Homo sapiens: one gene and its partners. The protein of the gene in region 1 purifies or fractionates together with the protein of each later gene. This does not show direct contact. Each region holds a gene or a part of one and is shown on either strand. Other genes may lie near its edges.

What was found.
Region 2: the proteins of RORB (region 1) and UBN2 purify together in Homo sapiens (affinity purification with mass spectrometry, with the first as the bait; one large-scale study listed by BioGRID). This does not show direct contact.
Region 3: the proteins of RORB (region 1) and TUB purify together in Homo sapiens (affinity purification with mass spectrometry, with the first as the bait; one large-scale study listed by BioGRID). This does not show direct contact.
Region 4: the proteins of RORB (region 1) and MIDEAS purify together in Homo sapiens (affinity purification with mass spectrometry, with the first as the bait; one large-scale study listed by BioGRID). This does not show direct contact.
Region 5: the proteins of RORB (region 1) and OAT purify together in Homo sapiens (affinity purification with mass spectrometry, with the first as the bait; one large-scale study listed by BioGRID). This does not show direct contact.
Region 6: the proteins of RORB (region 1) and VRK3 purify together in Homo sapiens (affinity purification with mass spectrometry, with the first as the bait; one large-scale study listed by BioGRID). This does not show direct contact.

Annotation. Positions count from the first base shown.
Region 1 is NC_000009.12:74,664,190-74,669,075, reverse strand, and holds part of RORB (nuclear receptor ROR-beta), read right to left. Parts: intron 3,589-4,886; coding exon 3,481-3,588; intron 1,286-3,480; coding exon 1,175-1,285; intron 1-1,174. UniProt on the Homo sapiens protein: Nuclear receptor that binds DNA as a monomer to ROR response elements (RORE) containing a single core motif half-site 5'-AGGTCA-3' preceded by a short A-T-rich sequence.
Region 2 is NC_000007.14:139,286,082-139,290,967, reverse strand, and holds part of UBN2 (ubinuclein-2), read right to left. Parts: intron 1-4,886.
Region 3 is NC_000011.10:8,097,615-8,102,500, reverse strand, and holds part of TUB (tubby protein homolog), read right to left. Parts: exon of another isoform or gene 4,788-4,886; coding exon 4,675-4,787; exon of another isoform or gene 3,744-4,674; coding exon 3,626-3,743; exon of another isoform or gene 3,162-3,625; intron 1,999-3,161; coding exon 1,900-1,998; intron 1,676-1,899; coding exon 1,504-1,675; intron 1,016-1,503; coding exon 882-1,015; 3' UTR 1-881. UniProt on the Homo sapiens protein: Functions in signal transduction from heterotrimeric G protein-coupled receptors. Binds to membranes containing phosphatidylinositol 4,5-bisphosphate. Can bind DNA (in vitro). May contribute to the regulation of transcription in the nucleus.
Region 4 is NC_000014.9:73,721,576-73,726,461, forward strand, and holds part of MIDEAS (mitotic deacetylase-associated SANT domain protein), read right to left. Parts: intron 4,534-4,886; coding exon 4,458-4,533; intron 3,786-4,457; coding exon 3,697-3,785; intron 1,273-3,696; coding exon 1,123-1,272; intron 1-1,122.
Region 5 is NC_000010.11:124,404,907-124,409,792, forward strand, and holds part of OAT (ornithine aminotransferase, mitochondrial isoform 1 precursor), read right to left. Parts: intron 4,060-4,886; coding exon 3,835-4,059; intron 3,732-3,834; coding exon 3,636-3,731; intron 2,511-3,635; exon of another isoform or gene 2,397-2,510; intron 658-2,396; coding exon 530-657; intron 1-529. UniProt on the Homo sapiens protein: Catalyzes the reversible interconversion of L-ornithine and 2-oxoglutarate to L-glutamate semialdehyde and L-glutamate.
Region 6 is NC_000019.10:49,996,944-50,001,829, reverse strand, and holds part of VRK3 (serine/threonine-protein kinase VRK3), read left to right. Parts: intron 1-975; coding exon 976-1,040; intron 1,041-4,259; coding exon 4,260-4,326; intron 4,327-4,886. UniProt on the Homo sapiens protein: Plays a role in the regulation of the cell cycle by phosphorylating the nuclear envelope protein barrier-to-autointegration factor/BAF that is required for disassembly and reassembly, respectively, of the nuclear envelope during mitosis.

The DNA of each region.
Region 1 (4,886 bases):
TAGTTATTATGGAGTCCATCCCTCTTATTTTATAGATGAGGAAACTAGGGCTCTGAGGGGTCAAATGTTTAATATCACACAGATACTTGGTCACAGAGCTGGCACCAGAATGTCCACCTCCATGTCTGAAGTTTTTCCTCTTCTACTGGGCAGTCTTCAGTATGAGTCATTTTCCCCTCTGCTGTCCTCACCTCCTTTTAAAAACTCCTGATACAGGTGACCCTTCTACAACATAGGTTTGAACTGTGTAGGTCAAGTTATATGAAGATTTTCCTTCTGTTTCTGCCACCCTGGGACTGCGAGACCAAACCCTCCTCTTCCTCCTTCTCCTCAGCCTACTCAGCATGAAGACGACCATGATGAAGACCTTTATGATGATCCACTTCCACTTAATGAACAGGAAATCTGTTTCCTCTTGCTTATAATTTTCTTAGTACCATTTTCTTTTCTCTAGCTTACTTTATTGTAAGAATACAGTATACAATACATTTAACATGCAAAGTATGTGTCAATCGACTGTTTATGTGATCAGCGAGGCTTCCGGTCAACAGTAAGCTATTGGTAGTGAAATTTTTCGGAGTCAGAAGTTACATGCAGATTTTTGACTGCATGCAGGGAGTTAATGCTCTGACCCCTGCATTGTTCAAGGTCAAATGTATTGCTAAGAAAATAGGCACCAGCATTTGTCTGAAGTGAGCACCTCAACATGAATTTGGGCAAAGATGCCAACACAAGAGGTGTTTAAAGAGTAGAAAGTGTTCCTTTTACTTATGTAGGTCCCCATTCTGGAGCTTTCATTTAGGTACATTTCTACTGTGTCTCATCCAACTGGACATTTATTTTCTATGTACTTTATTCTTAAAGTCAAAATAGAACTTGGCTGTAACTCAGGCCACTATTTGTCTTCCTTTATTTGCTAAGGAATGATTCTGCGTATCTGAATCTGGAATAACCCCTAACCTATGCTCTACTCTTGCTTTCGGGCCAAAATTGGTCATTTTAATAAACTTGAGGCTACTTCCCTTTTCACTGTCCAAAAATATCAAAAACTTGGTAAAGAAAATATAGCTCTGTTAAAGTTTCTCCTGAACACTTTGGCTTAGGCAGGTGTCATCAGTGTTAAAAATAGTAAAACAAGTTTTTTAAAAAGGTAAGAGAACTGAGACTGCCCTACCTGGAGATATCAGAACAGCAGATGAGAACAAAGCGATCTCCTCCTCGGTCAGCTGCAAGGAACACAAATTCTTTGCAAAGTCAAATGCTTCATTCACTAGGTCATCAGAACCTATAAAGGAAGAAGAAAAATGGAATAAAAATACTTGAACTTGAAATGGGGCAAGAGTAAGAAAAATCTCATAATCAATAAGCTATCCAAGGAGGTGCATACTAGACTTCTAGAAAAGATATTTTTTTAAGTTTCTAATTATAAAAAGTGATTTGATACTAATCAAAGAATGAGAAAATTGGGCAACATCTTGGCCAGGCAATCCAAGTTAACATTACCTACCAATGGCAAGCAAGTAGACTTGGTGTGTGAGTGGTGTCACATCTGTCTGGCAATCCATAATATGATTACATCCTTATAAATTTGAAATGATTTCACATTAAAGAATATAAAATAAGTGATTTGGGGATCCTTTACAATAGAGATAGTATTCATAGAAAACCTAAAACATTACATACAGGGGCTGAGGATTGTCAGTCTTCGTAACACTTGAAGCTAGCAATGTAGGGTATTCTGGACTTTTAAACTGAGACGTTAGAAATATCTAATGGAACAGAGATGAGATGCACTTCAGTTTCGCAATTTCCTTGGAAATTTCACTGAGGAGCTAGAGTTTATTTATTATTACCTTCTAATGAATGACTCACAGGTCAGTTGCTTAGCTGTTGCGTATTTTGGCAAAATAATGTTGCATCTCTACACTGATCCCTGGTGAATGTTTATTTGATGAAGCTGGAAATATACTGAGGTTGCTTGCCAAGGCTTTTCCTCCTTTCTTGAAAATCTAGCCTTGGAGATGACATGGATGTGTATCAACTGTAGAAGGGAAACATTGCCAGCCCCGATGGACTTGTTGTTGGCTGCCATATCAACTAACAGCACAAGAGGTGAAAGGGCAGTGGCCTTCTTTGGTGTCCATGGGCAGGATATGGAACAAATGGCACTATCAATCGTTAAAACCTTTCCTGGCATCAGCCCATCTTTGCTAATGTTCTTCCTACCATGCCATGCACTGATGACTGGATGTGATGATATATAACACTTCCAAACAAAGACTGACTCTGTTAGTGCCTTCCCACAGGAATGGTCTGGGATCACTGTGGACAGGTTGGCATGAACTCTGTGCTCCCAGAACTTTGTGAATTAACTTCTGTGGGTGAGAAACAAGTAGAGGAGCTCCTCATTTAATTAAGTATCTTAACTCATGATGATAAATTGACATAAGAAACGCAAGAGGTCACCACCATGGATGACCAGGGGTCTATGCAATATGCAATAAAGTTGAAAAAAAAAAGCTGATTTCACAAAGAATGATCTATAATTCAGCCCAGCTCTTTTACTCTTTTAGCATCAGCCTCCGGTTATTTCTTATTTCTTTCCTTTTTTTTTTTTAACAGGGTCTCGCTTTGTCACCCAGGCTGTAGTGCAGTGGTGTGAAGATGACTCACTGTAGCCTCAATCTCCCAGGGTCAAGCAATCTTCCTGCCTCAGCCTCCCAAGTAGCTGGGACTACAGGTGTGTGTCACCATGCCCAGCTAATTTTATTTATTTATTTTATTTATTTGAGATGGAGTCTTGCTCTGTTGCCCAAGCTGGAGTGCAGTGGAACTATCTCAGCTCACTGCAACCTCCACCTCCCACATTCAAGCGATTCTCTTGCCTCAGCCTCCTGAGTAGCTGGGATTACAGGCGTCAGCCACCATGCGTGGCTAATTTTTGTATTTTTGCAAGAGACTGGCTTTCACCATGTTGGCCAGGCTGGTCTAGAACTCCTGACCTCAAGAGATCCACCTGCCTCAGCCTCCCAAAGTGCTGGGATTACAGGCATGAGCCACCACACCTGGTGATGCCCAGCTAATTTTTGTACTTTTTGTAGAGATGGGGTTTGGCCATGTTGCCCATGCTGGTCTTGAACTCTGGGGCTCAAGTGATCTGCGCCCCTTGGCCTCCCAAAGTTCTAGGATTATACGCATGAGCCACCACGCTGGGCCTCCATTTATTTCTGAATGAACGATGTCTCAATAGGGTTGTTCTCAGGAGGGTCCTCAGTTCTCTCTTTCTTTTGTATTGGAGGCCACAGTTACAAGATCAGGAGAGGCTTGCCTGAATTAGAAGCTCACCTGGTCCATCGCTTATCGAATAATGAGATACTGGTTCACATCAAAGAATCAAGGCATTTCATTTACCAATTTCAATCTAAGTGGAGAAACTGATGGTGGCTAATAAAATTGTGTCCTCATCAAAGGGAAACTTACCTAAGGCTTTGAACATTTGCATTCCTCCATATTTTCCTTCAAACAGAACAGTGTTGTTTAATGGGTTGAAGGCACGGCACATTCTCACTAAAACCACTTCCAAGCAACCTATGAGTAAAAAATAAAAATAAAAATAAAATAAAAATACACATATATATCCAATAATAAAGAAATTATTACTGCATATAGGTAAGAGACTTTCAAGAACTTTAAAACACACAGAGAGACACATACACACACACACAGGCACACACATACAGAAATCCCTTAAGTTCCTTCCCCTAAAATAACTATTAGGTTGGTGCAAAAATAATTGCAGTTTTTGCCATTGAAAGTATTGGCAAAAACCTAATATATTTGCACCAATTTAATATATTAGAAATAAAGTTTTCTTGATACTTATATGAGGAATTAAGGAGAAAATATATTTTACAGGTGGCTAAGCTGGACATTACTTTTTGAAAATACATTTTTCTCTATTTTTCCACTAATATTAAAGCTAGTTTTGATTCCTGAATTCACAATTGAGGAAATGAGGGCAGAAATTTTGTCTGCAGTGATAGGCAGCCATGATTACTGTATTCACTCTTGCATCTCCAGGACCAAGAAAAGTTTCTGGCACATAGTAGGTGCTAAGCAAATATTTATTGAATGAATTTGTTTACTACCACTGTTTTTCCCTTTGAGCATTATTAACATCCTGAGGAAATACTGCTGCATAGCTTCCCATGTTTTGGAGAAATGGGCTTTTGCCCCATAGTGCAGTTGAAGTTAACAGCCAGACTCAGCAGCCACAGATTTGCATGAGAGCATCATACTGGTGATTAGCCTACAACTTTGGTACCTGTCTTATGCCATCACTTTATCTTTATGTCTCTGTTTTATTTCCTTTGCTGTACATATGTTTGCTGATTTCTCTCTGCTTGTCTTTGATACGTCACCTAGCATAGAGGCTTATACATGGGGAGGATTTGCAAATATTAATTGAAGGAATGCTTTTCTGACACAAACAGTAGATGGGTACCATTTATTGAGTATCTACACAATGGAAGGAACTTTCTTTGGCCTCTTACATTCATTTTTTATCTTTGCTCCTTACAATAACTATTTCAGGTGAGTTTATTAGCCCTATTTTATGGAGGAGTTACATGAGGCTTGAAAATATTAAGTACCCTACCTTTTTGACTAGAGTCAACATTTTTACACCAGGTAGAGATGTTAAAGATTATATGGTTCAGTTGTTCCCAAATGTCAGCCCATGGATTGGTTATATCTGAGTCTTAGTTAGAGATACAATGAACTGGGTTCCCCTCCAGGAGATTTGGATTCCATGGGACTCATGGTGCCCATGTCTCTGAACTGTCAATAATCTCCTTTGATGTTGTTGATGCAATTCTAAATTTGGA
Region 2 (4,886 bases), on another chromosome or scaffold:
GACTGATTATTTTAAAAATCTTTGTCCTTTTGCTTCTGGTGGGGTACTTCTTAAGTTAATGTATAAGAAAAATGCAGACAATCTTTCCACACACACATGCCACATAACATTACATATATTTATACACTTAAGAGGCTACACCACTGCTCAACAAACAAATGAAGAATATCCGCAAGCAGCCTTCTTCCTGGTTCTTTAACTGCCTCCCTCCCCTGTTCTCCTTTATTTGTTAATAAAAATAACAAATTTTACAACTGAAATTTATATCCATAGTTCTGGCCTCTCATCTCAATTTCCATCCTGCATATCTGAGAGTTAAGAGAATAATTCCACTTGAATATCTAGCACCAACTTGACATATCCAAAGCTGAAATCATCTTCTCCAATGGGTTCCCCCATCTTCTGTCAACTGCTTTCATCAGGGAATTCCATTCTTTCCAGTCCCTTAGGCCTGAAACCTTAGTTTTCAGGCATTATAAAATGATAACATTATAGTCAACAAACCCATTCTTTCTTTTTTACCAAAATTTGCTCTTACACTTAAGTACAAATCTTCACCACTCCATGTTTGAACCTGACAGTTTTTCTTATTTGCCTGTCTTTTCCTGTACTGTGCCAACCACAATATATAAAATGGGTACATTTAGGAAAAAATTACCAAGTTAGAAATAATAGTATCTTAATGCAACTGGGAAAGAAAAGATCCTGCATCAACTTAAAAATTAACCAGAGTTGGCAAGGCACGGTGGCTCATGCCTGTAATCCCAGCACTTTGGGAGGCCAAGGTGGGCGGATCATGAGATCAGGAATTCGAAACCAGCCTGACCAACATGGTGGTCTCTACTAACCCCGGTCTCTACTAAAAATACAAAATTACAATAATTAATCCATTAATACAATACAAAAATTAGCCAGGTGTGGTGGCGCATGCCTGTAATCCCAGCTACTCAGGAGGCTGAGGCAGGAGAACCGCTTGAACCTGGGAGGCAGAGGTTGCAGTGAGCCGAGATTGTGCCACTGCACTCTAGCCTGGGCAACAGAGCAAGACTCTGTCTCGGAAAAAAAAAAAAATTTAACCAGAGTTGCTTCTTCTAATCATAATTCTACTGCAGTCTTGGGATGATAAAGAGTCTCCAAGGCTGTGTGCCCCAGTTGGAGTTCCCTAGTGAGGAACATTAAATACTGTTAATAAAAGGAATCTTTTAAAGCTTTTCTGAAGGAGTGTAATTGAAGCATTAAAATAGATGCAAAATGAGGGCCAGGTGCGATGGTTCACTCCTATTATCCCAGCACTTTGGGAGGCTGAGTTGGGTGAATCACCTGAGGCCAGGGGTTCAAGACCAGCCTGGCCAACATGGTGAAACACCGTCTCTACTAAAAATACAAAAATTAGCTGGGCATGGTGGCGTCTGCCTGTAATCCCAGGTACTTGGAGGCTGAGGCAGGAGAGCTGCTTGAACCCTAGAGGCGGAAGCTGCAGTGAGCCAAGATTGCACCACTGCACTCCAGCCTGGGCAACAGAGTGAGACCCTGTCTCAAAAAAAAAAAAAAAAGCAAAATGTAAATTAGGGAGGGCAATTTCCAAAATTAAATAACTCAAGTATAGCAAAAAAGTGATACTATGCCATAACTGTCTAACATTTTACACTTTCAAGTAACTTCTATATCCACTTTAATTTGTTTATAAATATAAATGGAAGCATCAGATAATCTAAATGTGACATGGGTATTTGCAAATCTCTCTATCCTAAAAGATGGAGACCTTTCAGCAGTGGGGTACTCCAATGTTGGTATCATCTGGGATCATGCACAAGAAGTCAGCATGAAGCAGGTAAATAGTTCCAGATTATGCCCCATAATCAAAAATACTTTCCGTGACCTCTACATTTTATTCCCAGGGGAAAAAACATTGAAGGGAATCCTTGCTCTTCCCGTAGTGGGCATTAATTTTTTTTTTTTTTTTTTTTGAGATGGCGTCTCCCTCTGTTGCCAGGCTGGACTGCAGTGGTGCAATCTCGGCTCACTGCAACCTCCAACTCCAGGATTCAAGTGATCCTCCTGCCTCAGCCTCTCAAGTAGCTGAGATTACAGGCACGTGCCACCATACCCAGCTAATTTTTGTATTTTTAGTAGAGATGGGGTTTCACCATGTTGGCCAGGATGACCTCAATCTCCTGACCTCGTGATCCGCTCACCTCGGCCTCCCAAAGTCCTGGGTTTACAGGCATGAGCCACCACGACCGGCCGCAATTAAATTTTTTTTTAAACCACATACTCTACTTTGGTGAGTGCACTGGTCCCCTATTCCCCACAACGCCCAGAGTAAACTTTTGAAATGCAAATCAGACCATATCAGTCCCCTGTTTAAGAACCTCCAATAGCTTCCCACTGCACAGAGAATAAAATCCAAAGTCCTTACTGTGGTCCACAAGGTCCTCCATGACATGGTTCTGGTCTCTCTCTGATCTCATCACCTACCACTCTCTCCCCATGGTCCAGCCATGCAGGCCTTCACTTCAGGCTCTTTTCCATCTCAGTGTCTTCATACAACTGTTCCCTCTGGCCTGAACTATTTTCCCCCTCTTCTCTACACATGGCTGGCTTCTGCTCATTCAATTCTCAAATCAAACATTACCTCCTCAAACCTTCTTAACCTTTTTTACGTTAGCAGCAATCACTTTTATCATATTATCCTACAATTTTTTCACAGCATTTACCACATTTTGAAAAAACTTGTATTTTTCCTTGTCTTCCTACCTAGACTATATGTGTGAGTATGCTGTTCATCCCTATATCCCCAGCACCTAGAAGAGTGCCTGGCACATAGTAAACACTCAATAAACATTTGCTTAATGAATGAATGATGTTTGGAATTATAAAGTGGCAAAGACAGGATTCACAGAAAATCAGTAAGTTGAAGGGTAAGAAAGAGGAGGAAACCCCTGTGTGGAAAGTTATTAAACAGAAAGCAAGCAGAGCTAACAACCTGAACCCAGAAGGAGTTTAACTTTTGCCATTTGTTAAAGGACCTGTCATTTTCACTCTGCAAATGAGCAGACACCCACAGATGCCTTTCAGACAGAAGGTGAATGCTTTACAGGCATAGATAGGAACTCTGTTTTCAGTGTTGGAGAGCTATAGACAGGTTCTAGAGGCCACAAGATAGCTGGTAAGACTTTATTGAGACGCTATGTTAAAACAAAAAGAACCTTACTTTCGCCAAAGGGTAGAAATGACCTTATTCAATTATTAATCTTTTCTTCAGTCAAACCAGTAAGACAGAAAAAAAAAAAAAAAAGATCAGATATGAAGGCAGGAACACTTCAGTCTCCAAATCATAAAGCCATTTGGGAGAGGAAGAAAACCAGGAGGGAGTAGTTAGTCTTCAGAAACTCATACTTTGCCAAGTAGCCTTCATGCTGACAAACCAATTATTTGTTAGACAGTATAGGGGTTCTTTTGCAATCAATAATGAAATACAGGAAGATCTCTGGGAACAAAATAGAACTGACAGACTGTAGAGATGACAAAGGATGAAGAAAGATTTAATCTTAAGTTCAAAGAAAATGAAGCAAATGAAAATAAAAATGAATTTTTAATTCCAGAAATAACTCCCCAATTTTTTATAAAATTGATAAAATCAAGACTTTTCCATTTATTATTATTTAAAAACAAAAAGAAGAAAATGCTGAGAGAGTTAAAAGTAGTTAACCCTAGGAGGAGGATACGGGGCAGGGAACTACCATTTATGCTATCTTTTCACTTATTCCTTTGATCAAATTAAGAATTAATTTTAAGAAGAGTAAACTATTTAATAAACAGTAATGCAGACTAACTCCAATCTTCCATATACCTTTTTTTTCATAAGGGAAGGCCTTTATTCATCCATCTCCATATACATTTTAACATATAATCCCTAGTATCAATGTTTTTATTATTTTATTTCTGATGAAAGTAAATGTATATACATAAAACATCAGTTAATCCTAGATTTCAATTAATGAATTACCAGTTAGCTGAATTTGTTCTTCATTAGAATTCTGGCATCCAGTCATTCCTATGCCTACATTAGTAGCAGAATGATGATTTGAATATACAATGTATATTGAATATCAACCCTTAGACTATATTGAACAGCAGGAAACCTTGACATACAGCAAGGGGAAACTCTTCTCATTACATGTTCCTGTTCCACATAAATAGGAGACAGTACAAAGAGCACTTCCTTAGACAACACAATTCCATAAATAAATAAAAGTTATGTTTTCAAAGAATATTTAAGAACCTAAGAACTTGCATATCATAAAATGGTATTTTTTTTTTGCCGGTTATAAAACGAAATATTATACAAAACACATTTTGTTGAAAAAAGTCTTAAAAAGTACCTACAAAGCATAAACAGTATTGGATTAATAGGTGATTTTTATTTTCTTTTTTCTAAATTTGCCTTCAATGAACATACATTACTTTCAGGGGAAAAAAGTTAAAGAAACTAAATCATTAACATAAAGGACAAATCTGAGAAAGTGTCAGAATACAAAGAAGTGGCATAGAGATGAAAACAATAACAGAAGATGATATGGAAGACAGAGAGATAAAATATAGGCCCGGCGCAGTGACTCATGCCTGTAATCCCAGGACTTTGGGAGGCGGAAGCGGGCAGATCACTTGAGGTTAGGAGTTTGAGACCAGCCCAGTCAACATGGTAAAACCCCATCTCTACTAAAAATATAAAAATTAGGCCAGGTGTGGTAGCTCACGCCTGTAAGCCCAGCACTTTGGGAGGCCGAGGTGGGCAGATCAACTGGGGTCAGGAGTTCAAGATCAGCCTGGCCAACATGGCAATACACTGTCTCTACTAAAAACACAAAAATTAGCTGGGCATT
Region 3 (4,886 bases), on another chromosome or scaffold:
CCCATTTGTGTTTCCTGGGGGTTGTGCTGGGCTGCTCAGCAGAGAGCTCCTGGGGAAGCTGACAGGACTCCCAGAACAACCCTGATCCAGGGACCCTGTTCATGCACTTCTGCATGCTGAGCCTGTGTCTTGCAGGGCCCATCCACCAAGACAGCCCTGAGAGCTGGGTTCCTACTGCCTCTGTGAGACACAGCAAACCTGGAGAAATCAAATGCGCTAGAAACCTAGCCACCAGCTGATTCCCATAGCCACAGCAAGCCAGGCACCTGCAATCCTGACAGGGTCCTGCCACTTACCTGTCCCCACCACCCTCCCAACTTCTCTCAGGCTTGAGTGAGGCCTTCTGAAGTTGAAGGGCTTTCTGCAGTTGTTTAAGGGCCAGGCTTGGCCACCAAGCCCTTTGCTACATAAAGTTGATGTGGCCTTCATACATACACACATTCACTGTGCCCCTACCTGCTGGAGTACCCATTGCCATCTGACTCCTTGGCTGAGCGGACGACTGGGCCACAGCAGCCCTGCAGTGTGCTTCCTCTCCCTCTATGCCTCTTGCGGCCTTCCCAGCTGAAGAGGTTGCTCAGCTTGGTAAGTACGACTACAACACACTACTACCCCAAGGGTGGGAGTGTGTGTTGATCTCGTGGCATGGAAAGAATTATTCTCATCCCTTCACACCCACCCACCCGCTCTCCACTACTCCCCTGCCTCAGTAGCAGAGGCAAAGGAGCCAGTTCCTGGCTGGCTGGGCCAGGGAGCCCACTGAGGGCCAAAGCTTCATCTGGCGGAAGGCCTATATACAGAGGATAGGCAGGGCTGTCTCCACAGGCAGGCAGGCAAGCTCCGCTCCAGGCTGGGCAACCCCAAAGGGCACGAAGAGGCCTCTACTCGCACGCCAGCTTGCTGTCGAAGCTGGACAGGGCAATGGCAAAGGCCTGCAGTGCACACAGCGGGTAGTTGTAATCCATGGTGAACACATCCTCTGCTACCCGGCCAAACTGCATCACGATGTAGTCCGCTGGGGCCAAGCACAGGCACAGACAGAGAAAAGGACAGGACAGGAATGGTAGAGCCAGGGAAGGATAGACAGACACCCAAACCACATGAGGGAAGAACAAGTGAGAAGCAGAGATGCCAGGGGAATCACAAAGGGAAGTAAAACAAAGGCCAATTGGGAGAAGTGGCAGGAAAGAGGTGGCAGATGGCAAAGGACAAAGTAAGATGCATGTGAACACCAGGGGACAGAAAAGAGGAAAAGTCCTTTTAAAGGGTGTTCCCGTGCCTGAGACTCCGTTGAATACACAGAATCTAGGACCAGGGCTGCAAAGAAGGTTCTTCCAGGACCTCCCAGTCATTAGGGTTAGAAAGTTCCATACATCTAACCTTAGCTGTATAGCTCACATTCTTAAACTCTAGCCAGTGTAGGCAGGGCTAGGTGGGCTGAACCCTACGCTAAGGGCCTTGGGTATCCTACGGACCATAATGAGTAGGGACAGAAACACTCACGGTCATTGCCATGGATGATCTGGAAGTTCTTCACGGAGGCCTGTGTGACGCGCCCATGGAAGTTGAGTACATAGGACTGTGTGTCATCATTCCAGACAGGTGTCTTGTTTTGCAGCTCGATGATACTCTCCGTGTTCTTATTCTGCCAGCGTGCTAGCAGTGTCTCATGCTCCTGGGAGGGCAGCCTCACCTGAGCCAGGCCCAGGCCTTTGGCACCATGACCACCCCAGAAAGGGATCTATCCCGGGAATGGGGGTCCTTGGATTTCCCTAGACCTCCAGGGCTTTCTCACATGGTACCCCTCCACATACACACATCAGCTGGAGTTCTGCCCTTAGAAGCTCATGCAGAGACTAGGATGATGGGGAAAGAGGGGAGGAAGGGGTAGACACTCACGTTGCGGGGGCGGATAGAGACTCTCTCATGAACCATGTTCATGCCTGGGACAATCACGCTCATCTTCCGAGGCCCCTTGAAGCCTAAGACGTTTGTCTCCTGGGAAAGAGAACGCAACACTGGCCACCTGAGGCGTCTATTTACCTACTGGAGAAGGTGGGGGGGACGGGAATAAAGAGGAAGAGCTAGTTCCCACCATCTCCACTCCGAAGTCTAACACACATCCCTCTAAACCTAACACGGCCAGAACTGAGCCCCTGGGTCTCTACCCTGCCAGAACTAGCTCCTCTTATGCGTCATCCTTGCTTCTGCTCACGGCAATGCTGTTCTTCCACTCGCTCCGGCAAACTACTTGGTCACACTCGAGTCCTCTCTTCTACATCCTACGTCTAATCCATCAGCAGTTTCTGTCAGCTCCACCTTCCAATTATACCCAGACTTCCACCACTTTTCACCACTAGCTTCTCTCACCAAGATCATTCTAACAGCCTTTGCCTGGACTCCTGGTTTCTGTTGTTGGCCCTCCTATTCCTCCTTCCCACCATCTGTTCTCAACACAGCAGCCAGTGCTCAGGCACATTAAGTCAGATGATCTTTCTCCTCTGCTCAGAACTCTCCAGTGGCTCTCCAGCTCACTCCAAGTTAAAGCTGGAGATGTGACTTCACCTGCACGTGGCCCCATGACCTTCCTCTCCTCACCATTTACTGCCTGGTATCCACTCCATTCCTTCTTCATGCCAGGCATTCAGGACTTTTGTCCTCACTGTGTCCCCTAGACACGTACACTGCTGTTTTTCACTTCCTTCTGGTCTTTACTCAAGAGCTACCTCAGTGACGCCCTCCCTGCCATTCTGAAATTCTCACACATACCTTGACATTTCTTATCTCCCCTCCCCTACTTTTTCTTCTTAGTGTTTATAAAGAACATACTTACTTCACTGATAGATCTGTTTCATAGCTTGTCTGCCCTGCTAGGGCTTTAAGTCCCATAAAGGTATACATTTATGTCTGTTCATTACTATATCCTTAGTGCCTCAAACAATATGCTTAGTTGGAGCTCAGTAAGAACTTGAAGACTCAGGCTGCCTCCCCAAAACTGGTCAGCAGGTGGCACCACAGGATCATACAAAGTAGCTGTGGATTACTTACTGATGGCCTCCAAGAAGTGCCCATGCCCAGGTTGATGAGATACCCACCCCTGATTTTAAAAATGAAGAAAAAGGTTCAAAGGGGTAGAGTAATCCCCTATATTTATATTCCAGTTTGGTCGTTTTTGAGCTGTGTGACATCTGCAGCTGAGCTTCAGTTTCCTCATCTATAAAGAAAATAGGATCTACCTCTTAGGTTGAACGTTCAGTGAGATGACAAAGTGCCGTGTAATCCATGTAGAACCTGGCATGCCAGAGGGATGATCTGGGAAATGCACAGACAAGAACCCAGGGCGACCGTCTCCTTCTGTCTAAGAGACTCCTGGCCTGGACTGCAGAGAGCCAGGCCTGGTTTTCTGAGCTCCCCAAGCAGATGGCCGGCTGTGGTGTGAGCTCTGAAGTCAGGAGGAGAGAGCCAGAGCCCCTGTCCTAGGCCAGGAACACTCCACAGAGGACAGCCCCTCTCCACACAGCCTTGTCTACCCACTAAGATGGATGGGATAGCCCCTAGATCAGGCATCAAGTCCTGGATTTCATATCTACCTTGGAAATCAGAGACCCCCGAACCTAGGACTCACGTAGCACACAGCTGCCAGCTCCTGACGTAAGGTTCCACTTTCCAAAGTGGAGGATGAGGCCTTCTGAGGGTTGACTCCATTGTCATAAACAGTGAACTTGGTGCCCATCAAGTTGGACCTGAAATAAAGGCACAATCAGTATAGAGTCATGCACCCTCTGCCCCAGAGCAGGGAACAGCTCATCGTCTGTCCTATGAGGAGCCTGCAAAACATTCTGGGCTGGAACAGGAGCAGGCCCAGGGAGGCATACTGCTCACTGAATCCACATCTTTGAAGACACTTCGTGGGCAGAAGGCCTGGACTTGCTCTGAGTTGACTCAAAGTGCATTTCAGTTCAGTGAGAGCAATTCAGGGAGGTCAATCAGGATTCTTCAGAAGATTTATCTGGGGGAACATGGGAGTTCTCCTCATGGGAGGTGAGCAAACAGAATGGCATCTGATAAGACAGTGGAAGAGGCTTAGCACCCGTGGAGAGAGGATGAGATCTCCTCTGTCGCAGCCAGCCTAAGTCTCAGTCCAGCCCCATCTCCAGCTTTAGCTCCTGACCTCTCATCTTTATTTATGCTCCCCAAATCTGGTACTCAGTTCCTCAGCAAACCCTACCTCCCCACTGCCCCCACCTGGAGGCCTAGGCTCAGAGCCTTCCTGCCCCTTCACCACTGCCCCCCACCCCCAAGATTGCTGTGTGTCTCTTCCCTCAAGAGCTCACTCTCAGCCCTGTCCCTTGGCATTGACCATGGAGCCAAGGCAACTCTTCCATGGTGGCCTGCGTTATCAGTGACACCCTGGGGTTGGATCCATCACTCTTGGTGGGCCTGCACCCACCTCCTGGGAACAGCTTGGGGTCGGGTGTGTGATTCCCATCTCCAAGTCTGGCTCTAGGCTGGCATAGACATAGGCCTCCAGTTGGATGTGATTATCAGAGAGGATCCTGGGAGAGTATCCATCCCTGGCCTAGATCTCCTTCAGGAAGATTCAGGCCCTCTACAGACAGCTTGCCCCTGCCCCTCCCTCCCACTCCCGCCTGCTTCCTGGGGGAATGCTAGTACCGCAGTTTCCCGATATAGCTGTCCCCTCCTCGAGACAAGTCTGTTGGGTCCACAGAGATGAGGTAATTGGAAGTTTTACTCTTCTTTCTCTTCCTTCCCGCCAGGAGGAACACCTTGGGGAGTGGAATGAGGTCATATTCCAGACTCAGCCTCTGGTCTGCACACAGTCATGAGAGCCACTCACACAGACTCTCTCCGTTGCGTCAGCTCCC
Region 4 (4,886 bases), on another chromosome or scaffold:
ACCCGGCCGGGGGGTTCACCAGCCCCAGCTAGTCCTGCTCGCCTGGCTGGCCCAGCATAGTCTTCTGTACTAGGACTCTGGACTCTGTCCCCATGGCATAGTAGCCATGGGGACAGAAGAGTCTCAAGCCCTGGGAGCACCTGAGAGAGAACGAGGGGCAAGGAGGGTACATACCAGTCACTCCCCATTGCCACCCATCCTCCTGGACAGATGACCAGGAGGCATCCTCGGCAATGATGTGGTGAGCCAGGCAGAAGCCTTGAGTTCCAATTCCAAACTATCTTTGTAATGCTTTCTGTAGCTCTACTACCTTCCTGCCTGCAAAATGGGCAGCAAACCACTCCCTGTCTTACCGTAGCATGTCACCAAGCGTGGATTTGCAATCCCAAAAATGATGCTAGGTGGATACATGGACATAGGATTAAGTAACCTTCCCTTTTAATTCTCTTTCAATCCTGATTATGCCAAGGACTCAGTCTCTGGTTGCTGCTAATGTGTCTTTTATACTTCTCTAGACTTGATAATCTCTTTAACAAAGCAAGGTCAGCCCTCAGTCTCAGCCTTGGCAGGTAACACAGCATCTAGCTAGAATTCAGTAATACTGGTTTTCACATATATTTTTACCAGTACCTTCTATTTATAGCACACAACCTTGGTTTTCTATTTATCACTGTGATATAAAACTTCCCTTCTGAGTAAAAAATGAGTTGACTTAAAGGAAAATATTAAGTAATGGCACAAGTAGTATATGAATATGACAAAAATTCTAATGGCGACACATGGTAGGATGCAGATATGGCAGAAATCAAAAAGGTGATACAAGAATGACTGAGGTTTGAGAAACAGTGTTAGAGGTCTGCTAAGCGGAGATAGGAAGATGATGCTGGTGTGAATCTTGTGGGAAAATTACCCTGTGTATCAACACAATGTATTATTACTATGACACCAGCAGTATAGAGAGGAGAACCCAGCGGTCCAGGGCTCCTTGCGGCTGTCAGGGACACTGTCTTCCTCAACCTGCCCTCTGCAGGCTCCTGGAGAGCTCGGGCTCGGGCTCCCAGCTCAGGCCTGGTCCCAGACCCAGCCCAGGCTCTATGCAGCTGAGGTTGGAAAAGGAGTCACCTTAATATCCACTTCAACCTCTTCCTGGGCCGACTTCTCATCGCTCGTATCCACATCCCCAAAGGTTAGAGTCCCATTGCGGCCGATTTTCACCTGCTTCTTGTAGGTGTAGTAGAACTCCACGCACTGGGCCACGGTCTTGGTCTGGATCTGGTTTGAAGTCAAAACTGAGGTCAGAACCCTCTGGTTTGGCTCATCTGCCTGTGGAGAATCCAGCCTTTCTCGTCCCTGCATCTTTCCCTTAACTTCAAGCCAAAATGAAACCCAGCCAACCCAGGCAATACAAGCATTTTTCCAATGCCTGCTCTGCAACAAACCACTGATCAATTAATCAATGCTTCAGCACTATTTAAAATAAGTAAATAAATAAAAAAAGCTATAAAGGACAATGTCGGAACCACTCGGGAGATGGCAATATGGATTGCATATCAGAGGGCATTACTGTATTTTTTTTTCTTTTTTTTGGAGACAGAGTCTCGCTCTGTCACTCAGGCTGGAGTGCAGTGACGCGATTTTGGCTCACTGCAACCTCCGCCTCCCAGGTTCAAATAATTCTCGTGCCTCAGCTTCCTGAGTAGCTGGGATTACAGGTGTGTGCCACCACAACCAGCTAGTTTTTTTTAAATATTTTTAGTAGACATGGGGTTTTGCCATGTTGGCCAGCCTGGTCTCAAACTCCTGGCCTCAGGAGTGATCCGTCTGCCTCTGCCTCCCAAAGTGCTGGAATCACAGGCGTGAGCTACCTCGCCTGGCCTGAATTATTTTATCAGGTTAAATTTCGTGGGCGTGCTAATGGTACTGTGGTTTTGTAGAATATCTTGGTTTTTAGGAGATACGTGCTGAAAGGTTTTAGTCATGTGACAGGATGACTGTAACTTACTTTTAATGATTAGCTGAATCAGAGAACAAGAGAGAGCTGTATATGTGTGTGTCTATGTTTAGACATAGAGAAAGAGAAAGCAAATATAGCCAATGTTAACGATTGCTAAATCTAAGTCCGGGGTGGATGGGTGTTCATTCTACTGTTCTTTCCATTTTCCTCTAAGTTTGAAATTTTTCAAACTGAAAAGTTGAGGGAAAAGGTCTGGGCACCATCTACATCCAAAGCCAGCCCTGACCTGGCAACACAGACGCTTTTCATTAATCCAGGCAAACAATTTCATTTCTCTCCAGGGAGCAGTGGCTGAGAAGTGAGCATACAGAAATGTCACAGTGTCCCCTGTCGGGGGAGGAACTCAAGGGAAACTCACAAGAAAGCCCTGGAAAACCTGAGGAGGAAGCGAAAGGCCTAAGTCTTCCTCCTGACTCTGCTACCACACAGCTATTCGAGCTTAGGCAAGTCACTCACTTTTCTAATTTCAGTTTTTTCATGTGTAAATAGCAAATGGGGTTAAGTAAGACTAGATGATCTCCAGGGACCTGCCTCTCAAGCTCTGAAATTCTAGCTCTCCCATTGCATAAATCTATTTGGCCACTGGGTTTAGTTTTTGGGCAACTTTCCCACACCCAGAGGCTGTTTCCTCTGACACCACCACACAGGCTCGCACATTGCTCAGCCACCGCTGGGCTGGGAGCTCCTGTCCAGAGAGGCCAGGGGTCAGTGTGGGCCCTTTGTGTCTGAGGAGGAAACAGACATGTTTCATCTCACAGAAATGGCCAAGTCACACATGTATTAATTAGGCCATTTACACATTTACTGTCAATTCTCTCTGACCCTTTGTTTGACTGACTAAAGGTCTGCTCATTTCATTAGGCATTAGGGGCGCCTCCGTGAATTTCACGGGCGTGTACTTCCCGTCAGTATTGCCCAATCAGGGAATAGCGTGTTACTAAAACACAGCAAAGGACTCCTCACAACAGGGCCCTTGTAGGGGAATTCATCATCAGCACTTTGTCTAGTCCCCAGGGCTGTTCCCAATACAATCTACAATCCCAAGAGGAAAGGGCATGCTCTTTTTAAAAACTCTTTTCCCTTGGCAGTCCACACAATTCTCTCTCCCCACAGCCCAGATTTTGTGAGACAGGGCTGGAAAGATGCAATTCCTTGGATTAGCAAAGCATCTGCTTTTCCAGAAGAATATGGAGAGAGGACAAGATAAATCTAGGGAATGTGGGCTTGAACAGCTGAGTTACTGGAAGGCAACTCTGGGTCAAAGGAAGTGGGCAGAGGCCCCCAGGTCAGCTCCGCAGGCACTTGCTGGCTCTCAGTGGCCTTCACCCCAGGGTGCCCTCCCCCTGCATCTTCCTCTGGGGAATGGCTCACCTCTACTTGCCACCCTCCTCCGCATCTTCCTCCTGCCTATTTTAAGTCTGATGCCCACTTAGGCCTCCTTCTGGATTGAGACCCCAGAGCTTGGCCACCCTACCCTGAAGTGAGGAAAGGATGCTTAGAACCAAAAGGGAAAAGAGACCTATCTTTCTCTTTCTTGTATTGTTTAGGAAATTCTCTCTGAGGCTACTCAGTAGCATTGACCTGACTGCTTTTTAAGAGGGATTGGTCACTGGCAGAGGGAGCCCCAAAGTCACACAGGCAGCTCCTGGCCCTCATTTGCCCTGAAACAGAGCCCAGCTCACCAGCTTCTGCACCAGGAAGAAATCCTTCTTGTAGATGGCAATGCCTTTGTTGAACAGCTTCCTCTCGGCCATCTTCCACTGGTCAGAGCCTATGGGGCAAAGAGGCAGCCAGGGAGTGAGGTGGGCAGGGCCCTGGCCACTGCAGGGCAATTTTGACAAGCAAAAAAGTGTGAGGCCATCCGCCCATGGTTTCTGCAGGCATCAGAGCCGGCTCCTCGTCCCACTTCCATGTGCCTCACAGCCTCGCTCCCTTGCTTGTGAAATGGAAACTAATATCACCTAGCTCACCAGCTGTGGTGAGGATTAAATAAGATAATGCATGTGAAACCCTTGGTGCTCTGCCTGGTGCAGATGAAATGTAGCACTAACATGCATGGAAAACATTGGCTGTTAGGATTATGTGACTCGGTCCATGTCCTTCTTAAAGTGACCAGAACAGGACATGCACTCCTGGGGCTAAGTTCCAGGTACCTGATGCCAATCTGGATGGCTCTCCATGGGTTCCTGTCCTTGTGGCCTGGGCTTTTTTGCCTGGATGGTCTCCCACCTGCCCACTCCCTTCTCCCCTCCCCTCCAGGGCACAGGAAACCCCTGGAGAGCTACCCCAGCTTTGGTGGCAGTTCCCTCACTCTGACTCTTGGCTTATCTACCCTCCTCCTCCCGCCCCCACCCAGGGCTGTGACTCAGCACTGAGCAGGGCCCCATGGATGCTGGAGACCTCTTGAGGCTCCAGGCACCATGCCCACCGCAGCCAGGCCCACCTGTGTAGTGATAAGTTGCCAGCGGATGGTTGTGGGGCCGCAGGGGCTTCTTCAGCAGCAGCTTATTCAGCGTTTCCTGGAGGGGAAGTGAGGGAAGGGTCAGGGCACTGACAGGGGTGTCGGTGGTGGACGGAGCATTCTAGGCCCTGATAAAATCCCGAGTAGGGTGGACACTTACTCTTGCCCCCTTAACTGCTGAGAGATAAGGGGTCCACTGGGGTGGTGAGATCACAGGGGGTGGGGCTGCCCAGAAAACAGACCTCAGGTCCTCTTAAGAGAGTCCATGGCCCCAAGGGAGGCAGCACTGCTGGAGAAGGCTCTCAGCAACCATCCAGTCTGAGTCCACTGACCCAGAATCAGGGATGGGAATGGACAGGAGGACACTGCACAGCAAAACCCGGGGTCTGAAACTAGGGCTCCCTTGGGTCA
Region 5 (4,886 bases), on another chromosome or scaffold:
GGTGGTGTGTGCCTGTGGTTCCAGCTACTTGGGAGGCTGAGGCAGGAGGATCACTTGAACCCAGGAAGCGGAGTTTGCAGTGAGACGAGATTGTGCCACTGCGCTCCAGCCTAGGTGACAGAGTGAGACTCTGTCTCAAAAAAAGAAATTAATTACTTAAATTAAATCTAAAGTAAATAGCCTTTTAAAGCCAACTTAAGGCTTTCTTAAAAAGTCTTCCACTTCATAATTTTAAAAAGCTAGCTAAAAACAGAAATTTTACCTAGTAAGTAAGCAGGTATACCGAAGTTAACTGTTATGAAGGACACACATCTAAAGTAGTTGGCTGGCTGTACAGAGTAGATCACAGAACTCAGCTTTCTCTGTGTTGGAAACTAATTGATCGCTACTGAGAACAAGTCTGAAATCGTGGCTTAACTTAAGTGAGATAAATTTGCATTACTGTCATATAATGTACTTTTAATTCATATATTCAACAGCTTTAATTTCTATTCCCAATGAGCTGAGCACTATGATGCTAGTGAAATACCTCCAGTGCGGGCAGATCATTATAGGGAATGATGTCGAATCCCGGCATAAATGGTCCAAAACCATCGTAACTGGTTGGGTCTGTGGAACTGGAGATAGCAGACAACGTCCTACCCCAGAAGTTCCCAGCTACAAAGGGGAAACAAACAGTGATTATTTCAAAGAAACCCAAAATTCAATAAGCACTATCCCCGCAAAACACCACAAGAAGTTTGACTCAAAAAATAAATCAAGGGCTTGCTTTAGTGCACCTTCGGTGGGCTTTCAATTGTTAAAACAAAGTCTGATATTAAACACCATGGCTCCTATGACACAAGGCCACTAAGTCTGGCCTTGTAATTCCTATTTTAGGCATTTCTCTCTACTGAGCCTCTTGACTGGAATATATAGCCCCTGAAGATAGATAACTTACTTTTCTTTCAATAATCCCCAACCCAAAACCAAGCCCTAACAATTGAGGTCTTGAATGCATGTTTTCTAGAGAAGGTGCATTTATGATAGTGATATGAGAAAGAATATCCTTCATAGACAATTAGCGGTTTTCCTTTCAAAACTCCAATACTGCAGGCTAACAACAGAATGCATTTCCAATTTCATTTGGAGAAAAGATCCTCAAGCAATCCAAACACGTTTCCATTTTACCTTCCTTGATATTATAATCCTTTATGATGCTAAATGACAGACGTCTCCCTTTCTGCTGGAATATTTTTTATCCATTAATAAAGGTGACTGAGGATCTACTATGTCAGGCATTGTTTTAGATGTTGGGGAATAGACCAGGCACAGTGGCTCACTTATGTAATCCCTGCACTTTGGGAGGCCAAGGTGGGCAGATCGCCTGAGGTCAGGAGTTCAAGACCAGCCTGGCCAACATGGTGAAACCCCATCTCTACTAAAAATACAAAAATTAGCCAGGCATGGTAGTGCACACCTGTAGTCCCAGCTACTCAGCAGGCTAAGACACAAGAATCGCTTGAACCCAGGAAGCAGAGGTTGCTGTGAGCTGAGATCGCACCACTGCATTCCGGCCTGGGTGACAGAGCAAGACTGTCTCAAAAAATAAAAATAATAATAATAATAATAATAAAGATGTTGGGGAAGCCGGGTGCAGTGGCTCACGCCTGCAATCCCAGCACTTTGGGAGGCCGAGGCAGGCAGAACACATGAGGTCAGGAGTTCAAGACCAGCCTGGTTAACATGGCAAAACCCTGTCTCTACTAAAAATACAAAAATTAGCTGGGCGTGGTGGTGGGCGCCTGTAATCCCAGCTACACAGGAGGCTGAGGCAGGAGAATCACTTGAACCCTGGAGGCAGAGGTTACAGTGAGCCAGACTGCAGACTAGGTGACAAGAGTGAAACTCTGTCTCAAAAAAAAAAAAAAAAAAAGTTGGGAAATAGATCATGATCACAACTGGCAAGATCCCTATCCTCAGGGAGCTTCCTTTCTAGCAGGGAGAAAACACCTGACATAAACCAGTAAAGCAAGTGAGCTAGATAATTTCAGAGAGGATGACATTCAAGAAGGAAAGACACCATGTAAAATAACAGAGAGGTTGGGAGTTTGTGACATCATGTTTTTATCTTCTCACCACTTCTGCCAGCAGCAACTCCATTAATCAGTGCTGGATTATCGTATTTTGGCTTCATCTCGTTTCTAAATACTATTCTTGCAAAGCCTCTTTCACCAGCATCCCTTACCCACAAGTAATCTCTTCTTTCACTTGTCCACAAAAAATAGCACATTGATTTTGACTAGGTTTGTTTAAGAAGAAATGCACTGATTAGACCATAAGCCTATTTGCTCTCCCCTGCCTAGCCTCAGGAACCTCATCCTCAGTCACTTACCCTGCAGGTATAAGGGACTTACAGTTAGGGACAGTCTTCCTCTGTCTCTCCACCCCACTGACTCACCAGCTTCTTTCAATACTCAGGTGAAAACATCTTTGCACCCTTTGCTATTAAGAAAGAGACTGGACACAGTCTATAAGAATGAAAATCACCAGAAACACCATTTTTGTTTGCAAGAGACAGTTATGTTGTCCTACAACGAAAGCACAAGATTTTTAAATGGCAAGTTACAGAGTTTTGCTAAGATTTCTTCTTTGGGAATACCAATCTGTCCCCTCAAATACCAATCACCTCTGGCCTTCGGTTGAACTCTGGATTCTATTATGTTATGGGGTTTATCATTTAACTGCATGTGTTCACAAGGCAGAATATTTAATGATTTCAACTATCACAAGAATGAACTTTGACCATTATAGTGACAAATGTACACATACTTGTTTTTTAAAAAAATAAAGCTTAAAAAACAAGTCAGAACCTCTCATTTGAATATCATATAAAGAACCCAACAGTCAAACTACATCTTCTCAACTAATTGCTAGTCTCCCTAACCAAAATTCAAGTTATTCCTTTCATCCAGTCCCAGAAACCTAACAAGGGCAACTCCAAGCCTCCTCTTTTCAACAGCTTCTAAGTGGAACATGGCACAACAGGACCTCCAATATCAAGATTCAAACCACAGTCTATGTAGGCCATGGCCCCACACTAACTTCACCCAACCCCAGCACCCAACACAAACCCTCCACCAGTGAGACTATCTAATTAACTGGATAACTGCTATGAAAAAAATCTGACAGGCAAATGAGAGGAATATGGAGTTCAGAAAGAAAAATCTCATATATGAAGAAATAATCCCAAGAAGAGGAAATCCCTCATAAATTTTTATGAAACATTCAGCAAATACGTATCATGTACCAGGCAAAACATATTACAAGTATTTCATCAGCAAATTAAAACAGTAAATTTACACATATATATATGTTTTTTATATATAAAATATATAAGTGTGTGTGTGTGTGTGTGTGTGTGTGTGTGTGTATATATATATATATATATATATATATTTTTTTTTTTTTTTTTTAAATAGAGACAGGGTCTCCCTATGTTGCCCAGAAGGCTGGTCTTGAACTCCAGGGCTCAAAGACTCCTCCTGCCTTGGCCTCCCAAAATGCTAGGATTACAGGCATGAGCCACCATGCCTGGCCACAGTAAATTATATTGTATGTTTCAATCATAGAAGTTAATATTTAATTTCACATACCTGCAAAAACAATCTTTGCTTTGTATTTCTGAATGCCCTTCACGGTATAGCCCCACTTACGAGCTAGTTTACAGGCAGTCTCTCCAGCCTCCACTCCTATCAGGAGAGAAAAATGTTCAGATTTTTTTAAAATGTTAAACTATCAAAAAATAAAAAGATTATTTTTGAGGGTATTTAACAAAAAAAGGAAATGTTTTACCTGTATTCATAGGAAGAACTTTGTGGTAGTTGAAAAGTTTAGTAATATACTCCTCATATTCACCAAGTACGTTATTATAGAAAGCTCTAGATGTTAAGGTCAATTTGTCCACTTGACTCTTCAGAGCATTCACAATCTTGGGGTGACAATGCCCTTGGTTGACAGCACTGTAAGAACTCAGGAAGTCAAAATATTTTCTGCCTTCTACATCCCATAAGTAAATACCTAAAATACATAAGAAAGGAAAATAATTTTAGACAATTACTATACGGCATAAAGTCCAAAAATTAAGAGTGCTAGCAAGCCCTCTGAATGCCTATATATGAACCTCTATTTAATACATATTTGTAGTTAAAGCTTGTTTTAGCTCAGGCATAATAAACTTTGGTTTGTAAGGAATTACTAAGAATTGTATTTTATCTGCCCAGCTTCAAAACACACATTTAACAAAAATAACACAAAAAGGTTATAAACTCTGGAGTAAAACCTTTACCTAATTCTAAGATTTAGGATCCAAAATTAGAATTTAAAAGCAGAAGTTAGGCAGGGAGCCGTGGCTCACGCCTGTAATCCTAGCACTTTGGGAGACCAAGGCAGGGATTGCTTGAGCCCAGGAGTTCCAGATCAGCCTGGACAACACGGCAAAATCCCTGACGCTACAGAAAAATGCTGGGCATGGTAGTGCGCGCGTATGGTCCCGTTACAGAGGCTGAGGTGGGAGGATTGCTTGAGCCTGGGAGGTAGAGGATGCAGTGAGTTGAGATTGTGCCACTGCACTCCAGCCTGGGCACCAGAGCAAAATCCTGCCTATAAAAAAAAAAAATAAAATAAATAAAATTTAAAAATAAAAAAGCAGAAGTTACACATAACAGACAAAAATCATGAGAAGTAGACTGTAATAACCCTTAGGATGGAAAAAAAATATTTGTAAATCATGTGTCTGATAAGGATCTAATATCCAGAATTCTTACAACTCAATTTCAAAAGGACAAACAACCCAATTTAAAAAATGGGGAAAGACTTGAATAGCTATTTCTTCAAAGAAGATATAC
Region 6 (4,886 bases), on another chromosome or scaffold:
AGACATGCAAATGGAGGCCCAAAGTCATACAGAGAGCAGATGGAGGAGCTGGGATTTGAACCCTGGGTCAGCCTGGCGTTTCTTGGCCTCTCTCCTCTTCTCATCTGTCAGATGGGACCATGCATGTGAAGCCCACACTTAGCACAGGGCCAGAGACGTGGTGAGGTCTGTAAATGAACAGTAAGGGCTACTGGAGCAGGCTCTGTCGGGGGACAAGCATGCAGGGTGCTTATGGGGAGCTGCCTCAGGGATCAGAACCCAAGGAGGGGGTAAGGAGCAGGAGGTGGGCTGCGATGCAGCCCAGTGATGGCCTCAGCCGACCCTGCAGGGCTCTGGAGCAAAAGTGGTCCTTCAGCGTGCGTCCGTGTTGGGCCAGGAGAGGCTGGGCCTTTATGTCCACCTCAATCAGTCACTGGACCTGGGTCACCCTGGGATGTGGCCTTGGATGAAGTCACTCTGCCTAGGACGCACCTAATTGCCCAGCCACAGGCTGTGACAGTACATGGGAACTGTCCACCAGGAAGTTCCTCAGAGGCTCAGTGCTCGGGGCTGTTATTGGGGAGTAGTCATGTGGCCCCCTCTGTCTGACATGTATCCGCATCCCAGGTTCCCCAGAGGAAAGCAGGTGTTGCACAGAAACCACAGTGATTGCACAAGCAGTTTAGGCTCAGCGAGCCCCACTCACTTAGGGGATTCTGGGAGCCCTCCCGGAATCCAGGGTCCCAGACCTTGCCAGGAGAGCCGTCTCAGGCCTGCTGCATTAGCCCTTCCTGCATGGCTGGATAGTGACAGAGAGAAAGAGGAAGAAGAAGCTTATTTAAAACTAGGAAGCAGCAAGTCGTGAGAGCCAAGAGTGCGCTTGACCTTGTTGGAACCAGGGCACCAGAGCCGCTTCTCATTGCTGGGAAGTTTGGGGATGATGACCCTGACCTTCCGCGTGGTTATAACCTCACTCCCTTGTTTGTTCCCCCACAGCTGCACCCACCTCCACCCTCACCTGTGACTCAGGACCACAGAAGCAAAAGTTCTCACTCAAACTGGTAAGTGACCCTGCAGGTGGGGGGCAGCTTGGAGGGGAGGGACTTTCACAAACACATCCTTGACTTCTGAGCCCGTCTGTCAGCTGGGAGAGCTCGGCCGGGGGCCAGGGTCCCCACCTGCAAGGAGTATTAAGACCGTGGGCGGGGCAGGCGCCCAGTTCTCCATCATCCCAGGGTGTTGGAAACCCACAGTTGGATCCACCCAAGTCTGGCTCTGATGCTTCCCTGCTGTGTGACCTGGGCAAGCCCATCCCCCTCAGAGCTCAGTTTCCTCATCTGTGAAATGGAGCCACTAATACCCACAGGGTGTGGCCCATCTGCCCCCTACCACCGGCCTCGCAGCGTGCTCGTATCGAGCACCTACTGTGTATCACCGTGCTGGGTGTGGGGTCCAAAAGAGAACCCAGCAGATGGGGTCCCTGTGCTGAGGATTCAGTGAAATCACACATCGGGTGCCGAGCATGAGTCTCAGCAGACAGGACATGTGCACTCGAGGTTGGGGCTAAAAGGAAACAAATAGAGAAAGGGAGAGTGGCCACGAGGGTGAATCACGCCTTCCACACAGAGGAGGTGCCTAACAGAAGGGCATCGTGGTGGTTCATAGCCCCGCCATCATCCCTGGGTGCTGGGATTACAGGTGACTCTTATTTTCTTTTTGTTTATCAGAATTGTCTCACACCCCAGAAAACCAGGGACAGCTGGGTCAGTTGCCCTCCCTCCGCCCTAGGTGGAGGCCATGAGAGTGGGTCAGAGCGTGGGCTGTGGAGCCGGGCTCACTAGTGGTGGGTAGCACCTGCTTTGAGAGCCTGGCATTGCCTGAGCCGGGCTGTGTTTCATAAGCACTGCTTCATTGAATCCTCCCAGTAGGGCAGCTACCGTGTCCCATTTAACACTTCTCTGCATGGTTCAGGTGTGTCTGGCACAGTAGGCACCCCATCAACCTGAGCTGTTCCTGTTATTACTACTGTAATTATGCTCATCATCCTAGAAATACAGCCTTGCTCTCTGTTCGTGCATCTGACCTCATCAACATTTCCTGAGGCTCAAAACTTGGTGATGATGAGTTGGCCCCAGGCCCAGCCCTGGAGAGGCTCCCAGTCTGGCGGGAGCCATGTCATGTCCCAGTCCCATCGGGAAGAGGGGTGGGCTGGGAGGGGAGCACAGGGCACTGGGCCAACCAGAAGACATTCACCCTCCCCATCCACTGGGAAGGCAGCTCTGTTCTGAAGCATTCGAAAGGTCAGGGGCTGAATGCCCAGTGGTGTTCATCCATCCATTTATTCATTTATTCACCAAGCCTTTCCTGCAACCTCCTGTGAACTGAGTGCTGGGGACATCTGCAGAGATGGGTCAGACCCAATTCCTGCCCTGAAGGAGCTGCCCCCTTGGGGGAGTGGGGCAGGCATGAATACCCCACATGAGATTGCTCAGGGCCTGCATGGCTGTGCCCACGTCGCTCGCGTCAGTCACTATGGGCTTCGCCAGCATCGTGGGGAGGACTCCAGGACGCAAAAAGAGAAAAGGACAAGAAGAGGAGAAGATGGGGCAGGGAGCCAGGCTCACTAATGACCAGTAGCAGCACCTGCTTATTGAGAACCTATTATGTGACAGTCCCTGGGCTGAGTGTCACAAGCATTATGTCATTTAATTCTTTTGGATTTTTGTTTGAGACAGGATCTCTCTCTGTCACCCAGGCTGGAGTGCAGCGGTGCAATCAAGGCTCACTGCAGCCACAGCCTCCTAGGTTCAAGTGATCCTTCCACTTTAGCCTCCCAAGTAGCTGGGACCACAGGCATGCACCACCACGTCCAGCTTTTTTTTTTTTTTTTTTTTTTTTTTTTCTGGTAGAGATGGGGTCTTCCTGTGTTGCCCAGGTTGGTCTGGAACTCCTGGGCTCCCACCTTCACCTCCTAAAGTGCTGGGATTATAGGCATGAGCCATCACACCCAGCCTTTTGGTTTTCTTTGGGGTTTTGTGTGTGCGTGTGTGTGTGTGTATGTGTGTTTACTATGTCATTGAATTATTTCAGCAAGCCTATGGGATGGCTTCCATGTTCCTATTTAACAGATGAGGAAATGGAGACTCAGTCACTTGCCCAGGTGCACCCAGCACGCAGGTTGCTTTGTTCACAGCTATATCCCCAATGCCCAGAATAATACTCAGCATATAATGGAGGCTTTGTAGGAAGAATGAATGAATGAATGGCAGAGCTGGGGTTTGAACCTAGATCTGTTTGACTCTATACTCTTAAGAACTCAGCTGCATGAGTTGTGTTTAATTAAAATATTTGGTGCTTTTTTTTTTTTTTTTGCTACAAAATCTCACTCTGTCACCCAGGCTGGAGGTGCAGTCTTGGCTCACTGCAACCTCCGCCTCCCAGGTTCAAGCAATTCTCCTGCCTCAGCCTCCCGAGTAGCTGGGATTACAGGCACGCACCACCATGCCTGGCTAATTTTCGTATTTTTAGTAGAGGCAGGGTTTCACCATGTTGGCGAGGCTAGTCTAGAACTCCTAACCTCAAGTGATCCACCTGCCTCAGCCTCCCAAAGTGCTGGGATTACAGGCCTAAGCCACCACACCTGGCCATTTAGTGTTATTTTAACAAATACCTAATATTAATGGTGGCTTAAGCAAGATGATGTTTTATTGCTTTTTCATTTAAAAGTCAGGGGCAGTTTTCCAGAGCTGATAGGATGGTTTTATAAACAAGGGGCCCTGTTTCCTTCTTTTTGCACCAACATTTTCAACGCATAACCTGCATCTCCTGGGCCGTAGTGGCTGCTTCAGCTTCCACCATCACATCTGCGTTGCAGCCAGCTGGAACAGAAGAGGAAAGGTAGAGCCTGTCCCAGCCCACTAAGGGCATAACCTGGAAGTTGCCCACATTTCTTCTGCTCACATCCTCATTGGCCAGAACTTGGTCATGTGGTCAGTCCTCACTGCAAAGGAAGCTGGGAAACGTAGTTTTTATGCTGAAGGCTACATTCTAGGGAACACTGTGGCTCTTACCATAAGAGAAAGAAAAGGAACCTGGGTACAGCAAGGTAGCTCGCAGTCTCTGATGTGTGTTTGTGTGCAGTACCTGAGGAATTTGGCTCCGATGTGGGGACTTGATGAGGAGCCTGGTCATTGAGGGAGTAACAAATTGCCAGTGGGGACTGGGGGCCCTTATCTGAGACTTCAGTGTGACAGCCTTCTGCCCCTCCTGTCCCCCACCAGGATGCCAAGGATGGGCGCTTGTTCAATGAGCAGAACTTCTTCCAGCGGGCCGCCAAGCCTCTGCAAGGTACCTGACAGGGAACTGGGCAAGGAGGGGAGAGTGAGGGGGGCGCCAACTTGGTCACAGCACTTGACTTCTACCTGCAGGCATGAGAAGGGTGGGCTTAGATTAAAGGCCCAGGTTTGCTCCCATCTGTGTCCATAACCTGACTCCTGTGACCCCTCAGGCCTCAGTGTGTGTTGTGACTGGCTCACACCAGCTCTTGGAAGCCAAGTATTAAATTTTCAGGCTGGGCGTGGGTTGACGCCTATACTCCCAGCACTTTGGGAGGCTGAGGTGGGCAGATCACTTGAGGCCAGGAGTTTGAGACCATCCTGGGCAATGTGGCAAAACCTTATCTCTACTGAAAATACAAAAATTAGCCGGGTGTAATGGCATGCACCTGTGATCCCAGCTACTCAAGAGGCTGAGCTGAGAGAATTGCTTGAGCCCGGGAGACAGAGATTGCAGTGAGCTGTGATTGTGCCACTGCACTCCAGCCTGAGCAACAGAGCCAGACCCTGTCTCCAAAAAAAATAAAAATAAAAATAAATTTTTAGGAAGATGGCAAGCTGGTTGTTACAGAC